Linked DNA regions of Homo sapiens: region 1 is linked to region 2. Evidence: fine-mapped expression QTL. A gene starts in region 2. The other region holds a variant in brackets. All regions are shown on one strand. Distances are between the middles of the regions.

Region 1 (5,368 bases), 340 kb after region 2:
CTCTACTAAAAATACAAAACTTAGCAGGGCATGATGGCAGGTGTGCACCTGTAATCCCAGCTACTCAGGGAGGCTGAGGTACGAGAATTGCTTAAACCCAGGAAGCATAGGTTGCATTGAGCCAATATCACACCACTGCACTCCAGCACTCCAGCCTGGGTGACAGAGTGAGACTGCATCTCAACAACAACTACAACAACAACAACAACACATGATGCACAGGAGCAAGGTCTCCAAGGAAGCGGGGGCTTAGTGCCCCAGCAGAGTCATAGAGAGAGACAGCAGAATGGGGCAGGTTCAGATGTGTGATTCCTTGGAGCCTGGAGCCAGATACACCTGACCCTCTGTGAACAAAGATTATGCTTTGGGTTTTAAAGTTGGTATGTTACAGTATTTTGTTGTGCTTGCAGATACATTTTACATGGAAATGTGCATCTTACTATATTTCTAATATTAAGGAACTCAACACTTATACAGCTTGGTTTGGGTTCATTATCAAGGTGAATAAGCAGCTTTGCATAAACACTTTCCTACTACAAACATTTTAACAAATGCTTTTTTTAATAAACATTTTTAATCTTCAATGTTAATGTTACAAGTCAACACTTTTTGAAACTATTATGACAAAAATTTCAATATTACAGGAAAATGAATCTTCTTAGCAAACAGATGTACACAGAAACTCAACTTTCTGAAGGCAAGTCATAAAATAAGTATAGATTGAACTCAAATTTTATGGTAATTGGTATGCAAATATTCCCCAGTGTTCTCCTAATCCATCTAACAAGATGTAATGGCTAGCTTATTGCTTGTCTTCTCAAAGCATCTGTGTCAACAGACTCCCTTTTTTTTTTCAAGGTTCTTCATTAGCTGCTAGGCAAAGCCCATGTCTTCTGCTTCAGTTATATTTCCTAGCCAAGGCTGAATGAAAGAACATGGGCTTACTTATTTCTGCTTCTACAACTGGGATCTGAATATTTATGCCCACTGGGTGTGGGAGGCACCAGAACCTACGGGAGCTCTCCGTGGTGCTGGCCATGACATCAGCTGTGGGCCAAGCTGCCCTTCCTCTAGCCTTGATCTCACCTTGAATGCCCTTCATGACTCTAAGGCCAGCAATGATAGTGACTCAGATGCTGGCTTAATTGTCATGGTCTTGACCCCAGTCCTGGCCTTTGCCCTGTCCTGAACACTTCCTGTCCTTCCTTACTCTGAAGAACACTGATTGCCACTGTGCTCCTCCTAGACCCATTTACCCAGTCCATCCTATTCTGCCCACTTTTGCAGCCCCTCCCTGAAGGTTTACCAGAAGTTTCAGGGCTCCTCTATGACAGGTCCCCTCCAAGGGCCATTCTCTTTCCTTCTTTTTCAGACCGTTCCATCTTTTCATGTCCCATCAGCAAGTCGCTCCATTATTCCATGTCTTGGACCAGAGCCAAAGTCTGAGCTAATATTGTGTTGTGTCAATTCTGAGTCCCATGTCTGAGTCTCACCTCCCCAAATAAACTGGGTTCTTCAGACAGGGAACCCCTCCTCCTTGCATCCTCTTGCTGTGGTTGGCACAGAGCTGGGCACACTGGGGGCTCTGGCTGCACAGACTGATTGGATGATTGATGACTAATTGCTAACGGCTAATTCTAACCAGGTATGAGGAGCTGAACAGGGGCTGCCGTCTTCTCCGCCTTCCTCCACCTGCAGGAGTCTCTGTCTGTCTTGGGCATGGATCCTATGCTGCCGAGTGTGTAAATTAAGGAATAATAGAGCTGCAGAAGCATAAGCCCTCAATGATGGGGAATATGTTTGTCTGCTAAGAAGCAATTTCAGCGAAAATTAACTCCATTTCAACAGAAAGAGTGAGGCTTGGCATAAGCTGGCCAATCCCAGAGGACAATAAAATTACTTTGTCAAAGCTCTGCTTGCTTAAATTAACCAAGCGAGCACTCCAGGATCCTGGCTAGATACAGCAAGTAACTAGGTTTTAATGAACAAAAATAGCTTCTTGGATAAATGAGAAAAATAAACCACAGCCTACCTCTAGCACAAGTACACATGGTGGCTGTCTCAAGGACACTTCCCTCAAGGTTATGCATGGCCATGAGTATCCTGTACAGTTTAGAACCATCTACATGTTGGCATTGGCTGTGCATCCTTGGGACTTGTTCTTGGTCATTGATGTCCTATCCGCTCTGTCTACACTGGCTTTGCCCTTGAGAACTATGTTCTTGGCCATAGTGTCGTGGACAGTGAATCCTTTTTGGTTTTAGCCTCATGACTATGGACTGGCCACTCAGATCCTGGGAAACACTGGCCATTTCCCCCATGACTGTCTTCTTGGACAGCCACGTCCAGGACAATTGCCTGTCTTCATCTTGTCTTCTACATTGTGGCTTTAATCCATCCTGCCTGGTCAGCTGTGTTCTGGACAGCTGCTATACTGATTGTGCCATCCAGATCTATGACACTGGCTGGCTGTGCTTTGGCCTTAGATAGTTAAGTCCACCTGATTAGACTACTGATGACTGTGTCCTGACTGACCACATTTTGGAAAGTTGTCTATACAGATTGGTAAAACATCTGGTCAAGCCCCCTCTCCACGTTAAATTTTTTCTGGTTACTCATCTATATCAGTCAAGGTTCCACCAGAGAAGTAGAACTAGTAAGACGTGTGTGTGTGTGTGTGTGTGTGTGTGTGTGTGTGTGTGAGAG[A/T]GAGAGAGAGAGAGAGAGAGAGAGATGGAGAGAGGGAGATTGATTTATTAATACTAGGATATATTATTTATATGTATATTATTAAAGGATCATTAACACTAGGAGATTTATTACAAGCAATTGGCTTATGTGGCTATGAGGACTGGCTGGCAAATCTGGAATCCACAGGGAAGGACATCAGGAAGGGCAGGCTGGAAACTGCAGCAGGAACTGAAGCTGCTGTCTACAGGTAGAATTTCCCCTTCCTCAGAGAAACTTTGGCTCTGTTCTCAAGGCTTTCCACTGATTCGATGAGGCCTATGCAGCTCATTCGGGATCATCTCCTGTACATAAAGTCAACAGATTGCAGACGTTAACCACATCTACAAAACACCTCCCAGCAGCACCTGGGCCCATGTGTGACTGAATCACTGGGCACTCCATGTGAGAAGGGCTGCCACCGCTGGTCCCCTCGTTACAAAGGTGGGTCTCCTTACTGTTCACCTGAATAAGATAGAGTCTTCTTCTGACGCTTGGTAAGGCCAATTTCATCAGCCATGGTTGGAGGCGAGACCTGGGGTTTTGGTCAGCTCTGCTTCCTCCCTGACACACTCACTAAACATTGTCCATTGTCCATCTATACATGACTTTAGGGATGTTTGGTGCCGCTGTTGGCCAGCACCCTGGTCTCCAAGTGGAATTTTGTTAGTCTGAACTTTTCCTCCAGATATATCACATGGCTGTGTCCTACCCACACTTCTGGGGACAATTTAGAAAGGACATGGGCTATGTTCTTAGCAAGTCTCTGACACAGAAAGCCAAGCTTGCCTTCACGGCACAGCGACATTTGTATTTGTGGCTCTGATGCAGCGAATTCCATGGCCATAGAAGAATCTGAGTCTGTCCACTGCCTGCAGTTCCCTCCTGTCTTCCGTTCATTCATTCATTTGTTCATTCACTCATACAGTGAACACTGTCACACGGCCACCACAAGACAGGTCCTGCTCCAGGCCCGGGAGACCCAGCAGTGAACAGGGCACAGAAATGCCTGCTCTCAGGCTTCCATTCTCCCAGGGAGAGGGAGTTCACGAATGAATGAGATCTGTCTGGTGGTGAGAAATGTTGTGGAAAATCATAAAGCAGGGTTAGAAGGACAGAGGATACCTGGGGAATGGTCCCCCCATTAAGCAGGGTGGTTAGAGTACATCTCTAGAGAAGGGAACATTTCAACAAGAAGGGGAAGAAGACAAGAACCAAGTCATGCTGTTATGAGATAGGTGGGGGACATTCCAGCCAGAGTCCAAGGCCAGAAAATGCTTGGCATGGTCCAGGGACAGCGGGGCTGGGCCAGTTTAGAGTGCATGAAAGGGAAAGAGAGGGACAGCTGGGGAAGAGGAGGTCATAGAGGCAGCAGCAGACAGGGCTTGACAGTCACTGTGAGCCTGGCTCTGCTCTGAAGGAGACAGGAGCTATCAGAGCGTGCAGACACTGGGACGTGTCCCCTTCCGACAGAGCTGCTTAGTATCTGGTTGGGATTGCTGGCTGCTGAGGACCACAGCCAAGCTGTCCCCAGGCATCGCCCTCTGCTGAATGGAGCTGCCTCTATCAAGGCTCCCCCTTCCCTGGAAAGTGCAGGGCTGAAAGGCCCAGCCCCTTCCCCTCAATATGGGACATGTTCTAAGCCCACTCCAGCCCCAGAGCTCGGTGAGTTTGGCAGAGGCCCTCAGTGAGACTGCACTGCAGCCAGCTCCTCCTCTGTCCAATTCTCCGGCCTCCTGGGGAGGCTCCTGCCCACCATCAGGGAGGCTCCCCCACTCCCTGTGCTGCTTTCCATGCCAGGGGCACAGCACCCTGTGCTCTTAGAAGAATGCATTGATGTGGTCTTTAGTGTTTCCTGCACACCACTTCACCTGTGCTCTGTTCAGCACACATGTCTGAGTGACAGTGTGTGGCTACCCTTTTTCTTAGCTTAAGGACCAGTGCTGATCTCCCTGCTGTAGTATATTTCTGGGTGTTCATGCTGGATTCCCCCACTCCCAGAAGCAGATCCTTACTGGGACTGCCCCAGAATCGGGGTATCTCCCCAGTGGAGATTCCATTTACAGGTGGGATTGAAAACAGGAAATGACTGTCTGCACAATAAGGACTTACCATGTCCCCCACCTTCACTATGACCATAACTTGCACAGTACCCACTTCTTGGTGGAGAAAGTGCAGCTGTCAATCAAAAAGACAAGCAGGTTCTGATTAGAGACATGCCTGCAGCCCTCCACAGCCATTCCTGTGAACTGTCCTAGCAGGCCTCCAATATGCTGCTTCCACAGAGAAGTCTGTCTTGGAGGGAGTGCCTACAATATAAAACAACAGATCACATTAATAAGAAAACATAACCAACCAAATAGGAAAATGGCCAAAGGATATGAGTTTACTGAAAAGGATATAGATAGGCATCTGCCATAAAAAAAGATGCACAACCTTACTAGTAATCAAGGAAATGCAAATTAAATCAACGATGAGATATTGTTTTATTCACCTACATAACTGGCAAAAATTAGTTTGATAATCTCATGAGCTGTCAAGGTGGAAGGAAATTGGCTGTTCTCATGCCCTGTGAAAATGCATGTGTCTCAGGGCCCAGTAACTTCACTTCTGGTTTTGATTCCCCAGAGAACCCGTGGTGCCT
Region 2 (5,368 bases):
TGGGGGATGTGGCATGTTTCGCAGAGATGGGGAAAATGAGGGAGGCACCTGGTTAACCAGGAGCTTGGTCCTGGACACGTAGACTCCAGCGGCCCTGGACCTTCCCAAGACGCAGCTGGAGACAGGGGGCTCTACCACAGAGGAGAGGCCTAGGCTCTCCTGGGCACCGTGAGTACAGAGCAGGAAGCTCCTTGAGGAGTGTCTGCCTTGGGGCAAAAGGGCGGGAACAGGCAGACAGCAGGGACAGCCCCTGGTGCTGGTGACAGGTGGCGCAGACAAGAGCTGGTGAACATTCCCCGAGGTCAGCCATGGTGTCCACACTCACTGTGTCCCTCACCACAGCTCTGCAAGCTCTCACGTCCATTTCACAGATGAGGAAATCGAGGCTCGGAGAGCAGTCAGGACTTGCTCTGCCTTCACCAGCCATGAGGATGGATTTGCGCCCACACGTGTGCCTCGGTAGTCCGTGAGGAAAGAAAGCGCTCCAGTCTTGTTTGCCAGGGAAGGGAGGGGAAGTACAGCCCAGTGGCTGGGTCAAGACCACAGACTGGAGAAGCCAGACTCCTGGGATTAGCCTCCCAGCCCGGCCTCCTATCCACTGGGGAACTTGAGCACGTCTCCAGCCTCAGCCCACCCATCTGTAGAAGGTAGCAGAGCCAGCACTGTATTAGTGCTTGGGAAATAAAATAATAAATATAACTTTTGAGGAAGATGTTCTGCCTCATTCAGGGACATGTAAGTTAAAACCACAATGAGGCTGGGCATGGTGGCTCACACCTGTAATCCCAGCACTTTGGGAGGCCGAGGCGGGCAGATCACTTGAGGTCAGGAGTTTGAGACCGGCCTTGCCAACATGGCAAAACAAAAATTAGCTGGGCATGGTGGCACACGCCTGTAATGCCAGCTACTCGGGAAGCTGAGGTGGGAGGATCACTGGAACCCAGGAGGTGGAGGTTGCAGTGAGCTGAGATCGAGCCACTGCACTCCAGCCTGGGCGACACAGTAAGACTCAATGAGGCTGGGTGCCGTGTCTCATGCCTTTAATCACAACACTTTGAGAGGCTGTGGTGGGAGCATCACTTGAACCCAGGAGTTTGAGACCAGCTTGGGTAACATAGAGACCTCATCTCTTGAAAAAAAAAAATTAGCCAGGCATGGTGGTGCCCATCTGTAGTCCCAGCTACTCAGGAGGCTGAGGCAGGAGGATGGTTTGAGCCTAGGAGCTTGAGGTTACAGTGAGCTCTGATTGCACCACAACATCCCAGCTTGGGTGACAGAGCGAGACCCTGTCTGTCTCTAAAAAAAAAAAGCAGACAAGCAAAACCACCTAGTTGAAAAACCAGTTCATGCCACTAGATTTGCAAAACTAAAGAGTGCCAAATATTGGTGAGGATGTGGGACAGCCAGACCCTTCCACACTCCTGCTAAGCTGCTGGGAGTGTAAACTGGGGCTGTCACTTGGGAAGACGGTTTTGCTGTATCTCCTGAAGCTAGACAAATCCTACCCCGTGACCCTGCAGACCGTCCCTGGATCTAAAGGTGCCCACCGAGAGGCACACACAGGATGCTCATCACAGCTTTGCTCATCATGGCTCCAGATAGGCGACAATCCCATGTCCATCGGCAGGAGAATGGGCGAGCAGGAGCCCAACAAAACAGGCTGCGAAGACGATGCCTGCGAGCAGCTGCCCTGTGCCCTCACCACACAGAGCAGACAGAGCAAACAGCACAGGCTGAGTGACCCCGTTTCTGTAATGCCCAGAACAAGCCACCCAAAACAGCGTCCCATTCTGGGGTGCAAATATAAGAGGTCACACCCAAAGAAAAGCACTTAAAGATGAACACAAAAATGAGGGTTGTGGCTGCTCCTGGGGAGGGAGGAGCGGGGTGAGACGCGGAGGGACACCTGGGCCCGGTATGAGTCCATTCCCTTTCCCTGTTAACCATGTGAACTGTAGAGAGTTCCTCTTCTGTAGGGGTGACGTGATTCACACAGCAAAAACCGCACCCCTCAGGCTACAGATGGGGGCCAAGTCCCCAGCCGGGACTCAGCCCTCCCACGACGGGGTTTTCCTGGCCCATCTGCTCTGTTATCGATGCTCCTGTTGCCGGCTTCCCCTTCCTTGGCCTGGTTGCGTCCACCGGGAGGCCCTCCCGGATGCCTCCTGCCTGGGAGTGGCGGTTGTGAGTACAGTAACTGAGTGCTGGGTGTCTGCCCCTCAGCCTTGCCATGCAGGCTGGGGGTATTGCCTGGACAGCTCTGGCCCGTCACCCTGGATTCTGCAGCCCCACACCTCACACCGTGTAGATCCGCTGCCCCACGCTACAGCCGGAGTTCGCGTCTCGCCACGCCTCTGCCGCGGGACTTTCCTCCCTGGGCTGCGTCCCCAGCCGGGAATGCGCCACCAGCCTGGGGCCTGCAGGGGGCGCCCGGGCTCCCCGCGCAGGTGCCCGCCCATCTGACAGAGCGGAACGCGCGAGGCCGAGAGCTGGGAACACCCGGCCCCGCAAGGTCTGGGAACTGCGATTGCCTCCTTCAGCCTCAGTTTCCCCCCCCGTGAAAGGAGGCCATGCTCCTAGCCTGGGCACACTGAGCCAGGCCCTGTTCCTGGGGTCGCGGGCTAGCCCGCTCGAGAGCGGGGGGCTCCCGGAACTGCCCGCGCGGCCCCGGCGCCCAGAGAGTTGAGGCGGGCAGCCGTATCGCCCTTTGAAGACGCGCGGTGGGCCCCTGCAGGCGCGCGGCGCGGGGCAGAGCGCCCTCTGGAGGCCGCCGCCGGCCCCGCCCCCGCCCCGCCCCCGGGCTCTGGGCGGCGCATGCGCGCGGCGCGGGGCTCCGCGGGCGGCGAGAGCGAGGCCGGTCCGCAGCCGCGCGGCGCTCGGCGCCCCATTCATGCTGGGCATCGGCTGCGCGGCCACGCAGCGGAGCCCGGGCGCGGCGGCGGCCTCGGCCTGGGCGGCCTACGCGGCTTCGGCGGCCCCGCGGCGGGGCGGACGGCGGCGGCGGCGCGGGCGGCTGGGCGCGGCGATGGCCGGCGGCGGGGCGCGCCCCGGGGCGGCGGGTGAGTCGGGGCGCAACTTTCCCCGCGGCGCGGGACGGTGGGCGGGGGCCGGGCCGGGCTGGGGTCCGGGGCCGGGCGGCCCGTGGGTGGGCGCGGGGCGGCCTCCGGCGGCGGCCCTCTCGTGAGGCGGCAGGCAGGGGGTGTGCGCGGGGACTGCGGCGCGCGTGGGGACTGCGGCGCGCGTGTCCGCGGCCCGCGTGTCCCTGCGGCTCCGGCCCAGGCGTCCGCGTGTGTCCGGGCGCGGTCGCGGCGCCGACGCGGAGAGACCGCACCCCCGTGCGGCGGGGCTGGGACCGCGGCCCGGGATCCAGCGCCGCGGCCTCCCCCGCCCCCCGGCCGGGCCCGCCGAGCCCCGCGGCAGCTCCGGGGTGGCGGGGGGCGGGCGCTGCCCCTCCACGGAGGCTGGGGAGAAAGTTTGCGGCGGCCCCGCGGGGAGGCCCCTGCGGTGTCCAGGCCCGTCCCGGCCGCTGGACCTCGGCTCAGACCTCTGGCCGCGGGCGAGGACGGGGTGGCCAGGCCCGGATAGGGATCGGAGCCTCCCAGCAGGGCCGCGGGGGCCGGAGGAGGTCGTGCAGGCTAAGCCCCCGGCCGGCCCTGGGGCGCGGGGTGGAAGTTGGAGCGGCTTCCCGACCACAGCTGCCACCGCTCCCACTGGCCCGGAGTGCGGGGAGGTGGGCTCTGGGTGCCGCCCAGGAGGCCGCCCCGCTCGGGCCTCCTTGGCCTCCCCCTCTCGGGGCCTCTCCAGGGTCAGCCGCTTCTCCCGGAGGCTTCCGATTGCTTCCTGGATAGTCCCGGGCCTGATGTGCGGCGAAGCTGGAGGCAGCGGGCCGATCCCGGGCTGCCAGGGGAAGGGGGAGTGGGGACTCCAGGGAGGCCCCTCGGTCGGCGTGAGGTCCCAGGTGCAGCCCTGGAAAGGAGGGGAGGGGCTCCGAGGGGCGGCCCCGGGCGGCGATCTGCCCCAGGCTCCTGTGTGGGGTTCTGGGGCCACGCCCCTTGAAAGAAAGGGGTGTGTGTGCCGGGGAGGGGACGTGGTCGAGCCTCTGTCCCCTCAGCGCGGCTCCTGTGGCTCAGGCTGCTCCGTGCTGCCCCATCTCCTTTCACACGTAGCCGGTTTGGGGGTCGGTGCAGGGATGGGGCGCAGTTTCTGCTCCCCGGGCCCTTGAGGAGCTTGCCTCAGGTCCCCTCGATTTCCTGCGGCTTGGGGTGTGCGGCAGAGGCCAGGTGCTGCACCAGGGGCACCAAGATGCTGCCCGGCCCTTGAGGAGCACCCAGCCCCCTGCCAGAGGCAGGCATGTGAACCAGTGATTCGCTGCAGGGCCAGGCTTCCATTCCTGGGGGGTGCCAGTGGGGCCCAGGAAGGGCGTTTTGGGCAGAGGACAGCATGGGCGGAGGCCTGGGTTTGTGGCCTCAGTGTGTGCTCTGGGGGTGGGGGACACATGAGGTGCCTGTGGACAAAGCAGACAGCCCTTTGCTGGACTCCTGGCCCCCCAAGGTCGTTGCCTGCCTGTTTTGAGCCCCCAGGAAAGCCCCCGTGCACAGAGCAGCTTAGAGCAGCTGGCCGGGAGGAGCGGGTGCCCCAGGGGAAGGCCTGCAAAGGTAGGCACTTTTTCTCAGGAGCAGGACTCCAAGGCCTTCAGAGCCGGATCCCCTAGGACTGGTCGGGAGCAGAACCACTGGGACCACCTCCCATGACCCCCGTTGTGGGGGAGGCGGAGTGCCAGGAGCAGCTGTCTTCCCCCCCGGCTGCTGTTGTGAGCCACTGGGCAGGATGGCAGCCCCACACCCCAACCTGCCTGAGCCATAGCAGGATCTGGCGCAGGAGGACTTGGGGGGATTGGACTCTTCCTTGTGGGGAGGGCTTTGGGGGCCTTTGTTTCTCAGGGTGAGAAGGAGCTTTGGTGTCACTCAGGCCAGGAAAGGGAAGGGGACACTGTTGGCTTGGCGTTCCACCAGGCGGCGATCCCCTCCTGTCCAGGAGAGGAGCCCCTGGGCTGGGGCTCCTGCACGCAGACCGCGGGGTCTCTCTCCGCCTCTCTCTCCCTGGCTAGCCCCATCGGCATCCCAAGGCCAGTCTAGCCTCCCCTGCCCTGGCTCTGGCTCTGCCTCAGCCTAGAACAGCTCTGGCCATGCCGGAGAGCCACAGCCGTTCCTACTGCCCTCTGCACAGCCAGTGTTTCCCACCCCAGGCCTTTGCTCCTCCTGTTCTGCCCCCCACCCCCACCACGAATGCCCACCCTCCTGCACCAGCTCCCAGGCTACCTGGTCCTCTCTTGAGGCCTTTCCCCGGCCACAGTGGCCAGCTCTGCTCC

Direction of the effects. Positions count from the first base shown, and alleles are read on the strand shown. Sizes are in standard deviations (SD) of each study's normalised expression.
In carriers of allele T in region 1, the expression in lymphoblastoid cells of the gene that starts at base 2,887 in region 2 tends to be higher than with A alone (large effect, 1.4 SD a copy in GEUVADIS).

Evidence for each region. PIP is the estimated chance that this variant, and not a neighbour inherited with it, causes the effect.
Region 1: its variant is fine-mapped to the expression of PLXNA1 in lymphoblastoid cells (GEUVADIS, PIP 0.95).

The regions. Positions count from the first base shown.
Region 1 is chr3:127,319,699-127,325,066 of GRCh38, forward strand. LINC02016 (long intergenic non-protein coding RNA 2016) reads right to left here. Exons shown (of 5, transcript NR_110147.1): 4 at 4,837-5,033; 5 at 2,609-3,029. Among named protein-coding and RNA genes, the nearest start is that of PRR20G, 34 kb to the left of the region's middle. The variant A/T (reference allele first, on the strand shown) is at 2,707.
Region 2 is chr3:126,980,229-126,985,596 of GRCh38, forward strand. PLXNA1 (plexin A1) reads left to right here and starts at 2,887. Exons shown (of 32, transcript NM_032242.4): 1 at 2,887-3,059. RefSeq lists enhancers at 1,643-1,692, 1,953-2,282 and silencers at 2,333-2,552, 2,653-2,882, 3,898-3,977.